Regions from separate parts of the Homo sapiens genome. Here region 1 is linked to region 2. Evidence: fine-mapped expression QTL. A gene starts in region 2. The other region holds a variant in brackets. All regions are shown on one strand. Distances are between the middles of the regions.

Evidence for each region. PIP is the estimated chance that this variant, and not a neighbour inherited with it, causes the effect. A credible set is the group of variants that fine-mapping cannot tell apart.
Region 1: its variant is the best candidate, but not a certain one, in a credible set for the expression of COQ10A in nasal epithelium (TOPMed, PIP 0.87).

What each region holds. Positions count from the first base shown.
Region 1 is chr12:56,284,267-56,289,474 of GRCh38, forward strand. CS (citrate synthase) reads right to left here. Exons shown (of 11, transcript NM_004077.3): 2 at 2,329-2,379; 3 at 1,650-1,757. Among named protein-coding and RNA genes, the nearest start is that of CS, 13 kb to the right of the region's middle. The variant C/T (reference allele first, on the strand shown) is at 2,695.
Region 2 is chr12:56,263,735-56,269,218 of GRCh38, forward strand. It overlaps COQ10A (coenzyme Q10A), which reads left to right and starts at 3,208. Exons shown (of 5, transcript NM_144576.4): 1 at 3,208-3,518; 2 at 4,060-4,206; 3 at 5,325-5,484. The coding sequence starts at 3,385. RefSeq lists enhancers at 285-454, 3,101-3,210, 3,279-3,778, 3,302-3,471, 3,921-3,990, a silencer at 3,311-3,640 and a cis regulatory region at 3,387.

The sequences.
Region 1 (5,208 bases), 20 kb after region 2:
CAAGATCACACCATTGCACTTCAGCCTGGGTGACAAGAGCAAAACTCCATCTCAAAAAAAAAAAAAAAAAAGAAAAAAAAAAACAAACTTTGTGGCCAGGTACGGTGGGGCTCATGCCTGTAATCCCAGCACTTTGGGAGGCTGAGGAGGAGGGAAGATCACTAAGCCTCTCACAGAGTCTGTCACTCAGGCTGCAGCACAGTGGCACAATCACGGCTTACTGCAGCCTTGACTTGCAGGCTCAGGTGATCCACCCACTTCAGCCTCCTGAGTAGCTGGGATTATAGGCACGTGCCACCATGTCTGGCTAATTTTTGTATTTCTTTTTTTTTTTTTTAAAGAAATGGGGTTTAGGCCGGGTGCAGTGGCTCACGCCTGTAATCCCAGCACTTTGGGAGGCCAAGGCGGGCAGATCACGACGTCAGGATATCGAGACATCCTGGCCAACATGGTGAAACCCTGTCTCTACTAAAAATACAAAAATCAGCTGGGCGTGGTGGTGCGGGCCTGTAATCCCAGCTACTCAGGAGGCTGAGGCAGAAGAATCGCTTGAACCCGGGAGGCGGAGGTTGTAGTGAGCCGAGATCACGTCACTGTACTCCAGCCTGGTGACTCAGTGAGACTCCGTCCCAAAAAAAAAAAAAAAAACAGGGTTTTGCCAGCCATGTTGCCAAGGCTGATCTTTTTTTTTTTCCCCCCAGATGGAGTCTCACTCTTGCCCAGGCTGGAGTGCAATGGTGCAATCTCAGCTCACTGCAACCTCTGCCTCCTGGGTTTAAGTGATTCTCCTGCCTCAGGCTCCTGAGTAGCTGGGATTACAGTTGCCTGCCACCATGCCCAGCTAATTTTTATATTTTTTAGTAGAGACGGAGTTTTACCATGTTGGCCAGGCTGGTCTCGAACTCCTGACCTCAGATGAGCCACCCGCCTCAGCCTCCCAAAGTGCTGGGATTACAGGCATGAGCCACTGCAACAGGCCTGGAAATGAAATTTTTTAAGTTGAGAAATCACTATCTTTCTTTTTGTTTGTTTTGGAGATAGGGTCTCCCTCTGTTGCCCAGGCTATACTACAGTGGCATAATCATGGCTCACTGCAGCCCTGAACTCCTGGGCTCAAGCAATCCTCCTGCCTTTGCCTCCCCAGTAGCTGGGACTACAGGGGCATCCCACCATCTCTGGCTAATTTTTTAAATTTTTCTTTCATAGAGATTGTATCTTCCTTTGTTGATCAAGCTGGTTGTTAACTCCTGGCCTCAAGTGATTCTCCAACTGCAGCCTCCCAAAATGTTGGGATAATAGGCATGAGCCATTGCGCCCTCTGTTTGATTCCTTTTCTTATTGTATTTCACTTTTTTTCTCCTGCCCACTCAACCACTCCCCAACATACCCTACCCTCAAATTCCAACCAATCAAAACAAACAGAATGAGTTCTAGTCTAGGAGAAGGGGATGGAGACCAATAAGCTAAAAACTGTTGAGAAACTATCAGCTGAGCTGCTCAGAATCTGAAGGATGGGGAAAAGTCATCCTAAAGCTGTCCTACAGGGCCTATGGGACAGAATGCTTTTGAATAGTCAGTGGAGAGAATGTTACTTTTGTTGAAGCACATTACAGAGCTACTTTTCCCAGCCAAAGCCACACAACCCTTACCATGTCCACAGTGATTTGGCCCACCACCGTCTTGCCATGTTGCTGCCTGAAAGTCTTAATTCTGGCCTGCTCCTTAGGTATCAGGTCAGCCAATATGTCTTTCAAATTCTAAAAAGAAAAGTAGAAGGACTAAGCAATGGTCTAAAAGTTTATTAGATTTCCTGCAAAGTAGGTGTGTCAAGAATTTGCTTTTTAGAAGCTGGCTTTATCTGCCAGGGAAGTCTGGTCAACTACTCTGCACAAATGAGGGTAAAAGAATTAGGCAGGGGGAAGAAGGAATGAGGAGTTAATGTTTAATGGGAACAGTTTCTCGGTTTGGGCAGACAAAAGTTCTGGAGATGGATGGTTGCACAATAATGTAAACATATCTACTGCCACTAAACCATATACTTAAAAATGATTAAAATGGTAAATTTTATGTTATGTATATTTTACACTACTTAAAACATTTAAAAGAATTAGGCAAATGTATTGATATTCCCATCTCACTATACCACTGAGTAAATTATTTGTTAAATAGTAATATAATAATAATAGCAGCTATAACAATAACAATAGTAACAAACACTTCCAGGAAATACTCAGGATAATAAGAGGCCAGGTGGTTGCCAAATCCTCTGCCCCAAGGTCAGGCTGGCCGCAATGATTCTTATTCTTAGTCTTCTTTTCCAAACCTTACCGTGGAGGAAGCACTGGCATGCCGGGCTGCAAGAACAAGACAAGATGCATTCTGCAAAGCAAAAAAGAGAACCTTATGTAACTGTTACCCCTCCCTCTTTTATATTAACAAGAAGGAATTACAGTGACTCAACCTCTCTCTCTTCATCTCAGTCTCTTAGGGCAGTTTGACATAAGAAAGCTGTAAAAGTCCCCAAACAGTTTGGAAGGAGTTACCACTATGGAGACAGCAGGAGGTTTAACTGCTTTTTTTCATCCATAGCTTCACTAGCATTCCTTGAAGACAGACTCTTTCCCATCATCTGGGCTCCAGAGCAGGGCGGTTATCAATATTTTTGAGTGACCCCAAGGAAAACAAATGAGGAAA[C/T]TGAGCAATTACTTAACACTGCTGGTAAGATCTCTCCTGCACCTGGTCTTTCGACAGCACTTCAACCTCTCTAATCTGGGAAAGACCACAGGCAGAGGGCAGCCTTTCATAACGGTACTTCTGACCCTCCTGGAAAAAGCACAAAGATTATCTACAAAGAAGCTGACAGAAGACTACTCATTAGCAGAAATGGAAACTTGCAAAGTTTCTAAGAGTGTCAAAAGAAAATAATTAGTTTGGCTGGGCGCGGTGGCTCATGCCTGTAATCCCAGCACTTTGGGAAGCTGAGGCGGTGGATCACCTGAGGTCAGGAGTTCAAGACCAGCCTGGCCAACATGGTGAAACCCTTCTCTACTAAAAATACAAAAATTAGCCAGGCGTGGTATGGGCAGGCAGCTGTAATCCCAGCTACTCAGGAGACTGAGGTGGGAGAATGGCTTAAACCTTGGAGGCAGAGGTTGCAGTGAGCCAAGATTGTGCCACTGCACTCCAGCCTGGGCAAATGAGCAAGACTCTGTCAAAAAAAAAAAAAAAAAAAAAAAAAAAAAAAGAGAGAGAGAGAAAATAGTTTAGCTAGTTTATGCTTTTCTGTGTGTACAGGTAGTTTCTTTTTTCCTCAAATAAAAAATACATCTGTGAGAAGATTGTTAAGTTGCAATAAAAGTTCCACACCAACTTTGTGAGTTTTCTTTTTCCTTTTCTTTATTTTTTTTGAGACAGTTTCACTCTTGTTGCCCAGACTGGAGTGCAATGGCACAATCTCAGCTCACCGCAACCTCAGCCTTCTGGATTCAAGTGATTCTCCTGCCTTAGCCTCCTGAGTAGCTGGGATTACAGGCATGCACCACCATGCTTGGCTAATTTTTTTTGTATTTTTAGTAGAGACGGGGTTTCACCATGTTGGCCACGCTGGTCTCAAACTCCTGACCTCAGGTGATCTGCCTGCCTCGGCCTCTCAAAGCACTGGGATTACAGGCGTAAGCCACCATGCCAGGCCATACACCAACTTTGAAATAAGATGACCAATCAGGTTACTAACTAGGAATACGGCCTGAGGCAAGGAAATTAATTTTTCTGTACTAGATTTTGAAAACAAATTGAGATAATCAAATTAAGCCTAAGTTTCCTGCTCTATAAAATGGCTCTAATACTCACCACACACCTCACAGAATAGTCCCATGATAACTAAATTACAGTGGATATAAAAGTGCTTTGCAGACTTAGAAGATTACACACAGAAATAAACTAATCCTGGAGCAAGGCTGCACCTGTCCTTTTGTCAAAAGACCAGAGGCACCTTTTCTAGTAACTACTGCACTGCTCTCTGTGCAAAAAATTGCTACCTGCCTGGGGTGAGAGTTCTATAGGGCTGAAGGCTTTTTAGAATTTTTTTTTTTTTTTTTTTTTTTGAGATGGAGTCTCATTCTGTCGCCCAGGCTGAAGTGCAGTGGCGTGATCTCTGGCTCCCGTGTTCAAGTGATTCTCATGCCTCAGCCTCCTGAGTAGCTGGGATTATAGGCACACGCCACCATGCTTGGCTAATTTTTGTATTTTCAGTAGAGACAGAGTTTCATCATGTTGTCCAGGCTGGTCTCAAACTCCTGACATCTGGTGATACGCCTACCTCGGCCTCCCAGATTTTTAGAATTTTTAAAATTTAGTTCCCCTATTTCTGTTGGGACGGAGAGGAGGAATGAAAAGAGGCCCTTCAGAAAGGTCACTCTTTCCCCCAGGCTGGAGTATAGTGGCATGTTAATAGCTCACTGTAGCCTTCAATTCCTGGGCTCAAGTGATACTTCCACCTCAGCCTCCTGAGTAGCCAGGATTACAGGCGCACATCACCAAGCCCAGCTAATTAAAAAAAAAAAAATTTTTTTTTGTAGAGATGGGGTCTTGCTCTGTTGCCCAGGCTGGCCTCGAGTGATCCTGGGCTCAAGTGATCCTCCATTTTCAGCCTCCCAAAGTGCTGGGATTACAGGTATGCACCACTGCACCCAGACAGAAAAGATTACTTTTAAAAGAATCAATCCAAAGGTAAATTCAGAGAGCATAGACCAAGCCAGTATGTTCCTAAAGCAAACGAGGAACACCTCAACTTGTTACCAGGGCTGTCCTTAACTCCTTTTCTTAACTTCCTCAAGAGTCTCCTCTATCTTACTGAGGATCACTTGAGCAAGAAAATAGGCAGCACAAACAGCCCTTCATAGCCCTTGCACCCTACATGGGCAAACAGGAAGCTGAACCCAGCACTGAAGATGTAACTTTGCCCTTTCTTTCACAAAAAAAGTGGGCAAAGAAAACATGTTAATAAGTTCAAACTATTGTTCTACAGAGTTAACCTTGTTCAAGCTATTCCATGGTTTAGAGTCCCACAGATTCCCTACTAGAGAGGCCCCATGTCCCAGAGACTACATCAGCCCAGCAGGAGACCTTTTAATTGAGGGTGGTTGTTTGCTGTGGTGATTTTTTTTTAAATTTAATTTAATTAATTTTTTTTTTTGAGACGGAGTCCCG
Region 2 (5,484 bases):
GGTTTCACCATGTTAGCCAGGATGGTCTCCATCTCCTGACCTCGTGATCCACCCGCCTTGGCCTCCCAAAGTGCTGGGATTACAGGCAGTGAGCCACTGCGCCCGGACATGTTTTGTATTTTTTGTAGAAATGGGTTTTTGCCACGTTGGCCAGGATGGTTTTGATCTCCTGACCTCATGATCCGCCTGCCTTGGCCTCCCAAAGTGCTGGGATTACAGGTGTGAGCCACCGTGCCCGGCCCAAGAGCTACCCTGTTTCTAGACCAGATGTCTCTTCCAGATTAGTTGGACAAGAATTGCAACACAGTCTTTTTTTGTTTTTGTTTTTGTTTTTCTGAGACAGGGTCTCACTCCCGTCACACAGACTGGAGTGCAGTGGTGCAATCACGGCTCACTGCAGCCTCAACCTCCTGGGCCCAGGTGATCCAACTCAGACTCCCAAGTAGCTGGGATTACAGGCATGTGCCACCATGCCTGGCTAAATTTTTTTGTATTTTTTGTAGAGACAAGGTTTCACCATATTGCCCAGGCTGGTCTCAAACTCCCGGGCTCGGGTGATCCACCAACCTTCACCTCCCAAAGTGCTGCAATTACAGATATGAGCCACCATGCCTGGCTACAACACAGTCTTTATTTACTTTATCCCCTGCCCCTCTGCATAACCACCACACACAACACTTCTCAGGGAAAGATTTCCTGAAAGTGGAGAGCTTGACTGAAGATTTAGAAAGCAAGCAGAGGAAAGGCTTGTACTGTAATAGCATGAATTTCTTAAAACTCAACAGCAGGCACCACCATTCTCTTGCACCCACCTAGTTCTAGTCTCTCTTTTTTTTTTCTTTTTTATTTTTGGAGAGACAAGTTCTCACTATGTTGCCCAGGCTGGTCTTGAACTCCTGGCCTCAAGTGATCCTCCCACCTCAGCCTCCCAAAGTGCTGGGATTACAGGCATGAGCCACTGCACTTAGCCCAATCTCTTTCTAATTGTTGATTTCTTTCTTCCCTTCCTTTTTTTCTTTTGTTTGCCTGACTTTTTTTTTTTTTTTTTTTTGAGATGGAGTCTTGCACTGCTGCCCAGGCTGGAGTGCAGTGGTGCGATCTTGGCTCACTGCAAGCTCCGCTCCCCGGGTTCATGCCATTCTCCTGCCTCGGCCTCCTGAGTAGCTGGGACTACAGGTACCCACCACCACGCCCGGCTAATTTTTTGTATTTTTAGTAGAGATGCAGTTTCACCCTGTTAGCCAGGATGGTCTCGATCTCCTGACCTCGTGATCCACCCACCTCGGCCTCCCAAAGTGCTGAGATTACAGGCATGAGCCACCGCACCTGGCCCACCTGACTTTTATCAAGAGCATTTTTTCTCTTTCTTGCTCGCTTGCTTTCTTTTCTTTTCTTTCTTTCCTTTTTTTTTTTTTTTTTTTTTTGAGATGGAGTCTTGCTCTGTTGCTCAGGCTGGAGTGCAGTGGCACAATCTCAGCTCACTCCAACTTCCGCCTCCTGGGTTCAAGCGATTCTCCTGCCTCAGCCTCCCGAGTAGCTGGGATTAGAGGCGCCCGCCACCATACCTGGCTAATTTTTGTATTTTTAGTAGAGATAAGGTCTCACTATGTTGGCCAGGCTGGTCTTGAACTCCTGACCTCAAGTGATCTGCCCGCCTCAGCCTCCCAAAGTGCTGGGATTACAGACGTGAGCCACCATGCCTAGCCAAGAGCATTTTTTTTTTCTCCTTGAATCATGAAAAGTAGTATAGTGGTATTTAATTGCGTGGGTTTCTGTCCATGAGGTCTCACTCTTCATCAAGCGCACACTTTTCAAACAAAGATGGTTCTCTGTCCTAAGAATATCTGGTTCTTCCTACCTCGACTTCTTTCTATAAATATTAAAGGTAAAAACTATGCAGTCTTAGCCCAGAGCTTGGAATGTTAATCTCCTTTCCCAAAAATGTAGAACACAGCACTAACCACTTGTGGAAGCTACAAAGATGAACAGTGCTTCTAACTATAAACAAGGCCGAATATGATAAAGGCTCTGTGATGATTGAGTGTCAACTTGATTGGATTGAAGGAGGCAAAGTGTTGTTCCTGAGTGTCTGTGAGGGTGTTGCCAAAGGAGATTAACATTTAAGTCAGTGGACTGGAAGGAAGTGACCCAGTCTCAATGGTGGGCACCATCCAATCCGCTGCCAGCGACGCTAGAAAAAGTAGGCAGGGCTAGGCATGGTGGCTAACACCTGTAATCCCAGCACTTTGGGAAGCCGAGACGGGTGGATCACCTGAGGTCAGGAGTTCGAGACCAGCCTGGCCAACATGGCGAAACCCCATCTCTACTAAAAATACAAAAATTAGCTGGGCATGGTGGCGCATGCCTGTAATCCCAGGTACTGGGGAGGGGGGCGGGGCGGGGGTGGTGAGGCAGGAGGATCGCTTGAACCTGGGAGGCCAAGGTTGCAGTGAGCTGAGATCGTGCCACTGCACTCCAGTCTGGGCAACAGAGCGAGACTCCGTCTCAAATAAATAAATAAATAAATAAATAAATAAATAAATAAATAAAAGTAAAAGTAGGTGGAAGAAGCTGACTTGCTGAAGTCTTCCGGCCTTCGTCTTTCTCTCATGCTGGATGCTTCCTGCCCTCGAACATCAGACTCCAAGTTCTTCAGCTTTTGGACTCTTGGACTTACACCAGTGGTTTGCCAAGGGCTCTCGGGGCTTTGGCCACAGACTGAAGGCTGCACTGCCGGCTTCCCTACTTTTGAGGTTTTGGGCCTTGGACTGATCCACCACTGGCCTCCTTGCTCCTCAACTTGCAGACGGCCTAATGTGAGACTTTACCTTGTGATCCTGTGAGGCAATTCTTAATAAACTCCCTTTCATATATACATTTATCCTATTCACTATGTCCCTCTAGAGAACCTAAGGCTCTAACAGCGACGTTCAGAGGATCTACAGATATCTGCGGTAGACACGCCCACGAAGTCGCCTCTGTGCCTACCTATCGGGTCCTGTGACCACAGGCGACCTCAGTCCCCGAACCATCTTTGCAGCTTCTCAAACGCACACCCCAGTGCCCTTTCTCGCCACAGGTGTGAAACTACATCTCCCGACAGGCGGCGTTGTCCCCTTCCTTCCTTCCTTCCTCTCCCAGGCCCGAGCCATGGCAACAGCGTGACGTGGGGGTACCGAGATCTGCGGGAGCAGCGGTCCCGGCTTCAGTTCTAGCCTACCCGGCAGCCTGGACGGGAGCAAGGCGAGAGGTGCTGCCGCCTCCCGTCGCCCCTGCGCTCAGAGGTCCCGAACCAGCCCAGCCGCTGCCTCTTGCCGCTCCGCCTTTGGAGTGAGGAGGGCGCAGCCCGCGTCAGAACTTAGAGGGCCAGGCAGGGTCGCGCGCATGGCCTGGGCGGGCTCGCGGCGGGTCCCAGCTGGGACGCGCGCGGCAGCCGAGCGCTGCTGCCGGCTCTCGCTCAGCCCGGGCGCGCAACCGGCCCCGCCCCCAGGCCCTCTGCCACCGCCGCGACCAATGAGGTGAGAGGGAGGTGACCGCGGCTGAGGGCAGGGGGTCGCTGCGAACCCCGGGGTTCCGCGGTGGAGGGGTGCTATACTGGGATGCAGGCGCGGCGGGGACTGGCAGCAATCATGCCCTGGGAGCTAACGTAGAGCTTTGGATAATGCTTTTGCAAGTTGTACGAGAAGGGAAGTTCTCGGGGTGAGTGTCCAACCTCTTCTTGGCCCTCGCGGGCGCCCTGGGGTCCCCGGGGACAGTGATGCTTCCTTAAAGTCTTAGCTTTCAGCAGTAGTGTAGGCCCAGTCAAAGGCAACTGGCGCTTCCCACACACCCCTTTTTCTCATCCCCCTCACCCCGCCCCCAGCCCTGTCCTTAGCTGCCCTCGACCTTTTGCACTCGTGACTCCCTGGCCAGAGAGAGCCTAGCGGGCTGCAGCAGGTGCTGGGGGGAAAGCTTGTTTGGACGACCTTCGTCTGGGATGCACTCTTCTTCTCCTTCACCTACAAATGATAGAGGATTACGAAGAACTATACGGTTGGCTCCTCTTTCCTTTGGCCTTAGGTTTCTGACCTCCTGCAGCCTCCTCTTGCCTCGGGCTGCCCAGATCTTGGCGGCTGAGGCTGGCTTACCTTCGAGCCGTTCCTTCATGGGATTTGCTGCTCCCTTCACCAACAAGCGAAAGGCTTACTCGGAGCGTAGAATCATGGGGTAAGCATTCTCTGCCTTGCATCCTTGCACCTCCCTTTTCCCTCCAAATAACCCTGTCCAGGCAAGAATGTCAGGGTATCATCGGTGGGCAAGATTCATCCCTAGCCATCCCCCTCCCCAGCTACAATACTGATCCTCAGTCCTCCCCTGCCACTCTTCCGACCTTAATTTCTCCCTTCTTGGTTGCTGTGCATGTGCTTAAGTGAAATGAGACTAGGGTTGGACTATACTTTAAGACAACAGGGCGTAGCTGGGTGCGGTGGCTCACGCCTGTAATCCCAGGACTTTGGGAGGCTGAGGCGGGCCGATCGTTTTAGGTCAGGAGTTCGAGACCAGCCTGGCCAACATGGTGAAACCCTGTCTCCACTAAAAAAAAACACACACACAAGAATCAGCCTGGCACGGTGGCGGGCGCCTTTAATCCCAGCTATTTGGGAGGCTGAGGCAGGATAATCGCTGGAACCTGGGAGGCAGAGGTTGCAGTGAGCTGAGATTGCCCCACTGCACTCCAGCCTGGGCGACAGAGCAAGACTGTCTCAAAAAACAAAACAAAAAACAGGGTGTATTTTTCTGGTGACCATTTAAAAATAATTTTTATGGGTACCTAGTATGTGTAAATTAGCAGCGTAACCTTTTTAGTATATTTTGAGCATAATAGCTAAATTATCGAGCACTTGCTACATGCTAGCAGCTTGACTTAGATGTTTTACATAGATATTTCTCATTTAATTCTCACAACAAACCTATAAATCAGGTGAGAAAATGGAGACACAGGTAATTTACCTAAGGCCACATTGTTAAAAAATTGTTAAGAGCTGGGATCTGATCCTTGTGTGATCACCAGTAAAACTGACAGCCTCTGTTCTCCCTAGATGGTCCCTCTTAAAATCAAAATAAACAATGAATGCAAAAGCATTCTGTAAACTGCAAAATATAAGGTAACAGTATCATAAGGATTTACACGTTTGCTTTTGGGAAGTTATTCATCCAGGCTTATTTGGGATCTGTAGTTCCTGAAGGTGCGTGGTTAGTGGGCAAAGGTATGAATTAGGGGCCTATAGCAAGGAGGAACCTGACCCAGCTGGCAGCTCCTTGGCCTGTGATTCTTCTTCTCCTAGGTACTCAATGCAGGAGATGTATGAGGTGGTGTCCAACGTCCAGGAGTATCGTGAGTTTGTGCCCTGGTGTAAGAAGTCTCTGGTGGTATCCAGCCGTAAGGGTCATTTGAAAGCCCAGCTGGAGGTTGGCTTTCCACCTGTCATGGAACGTTACACCTCT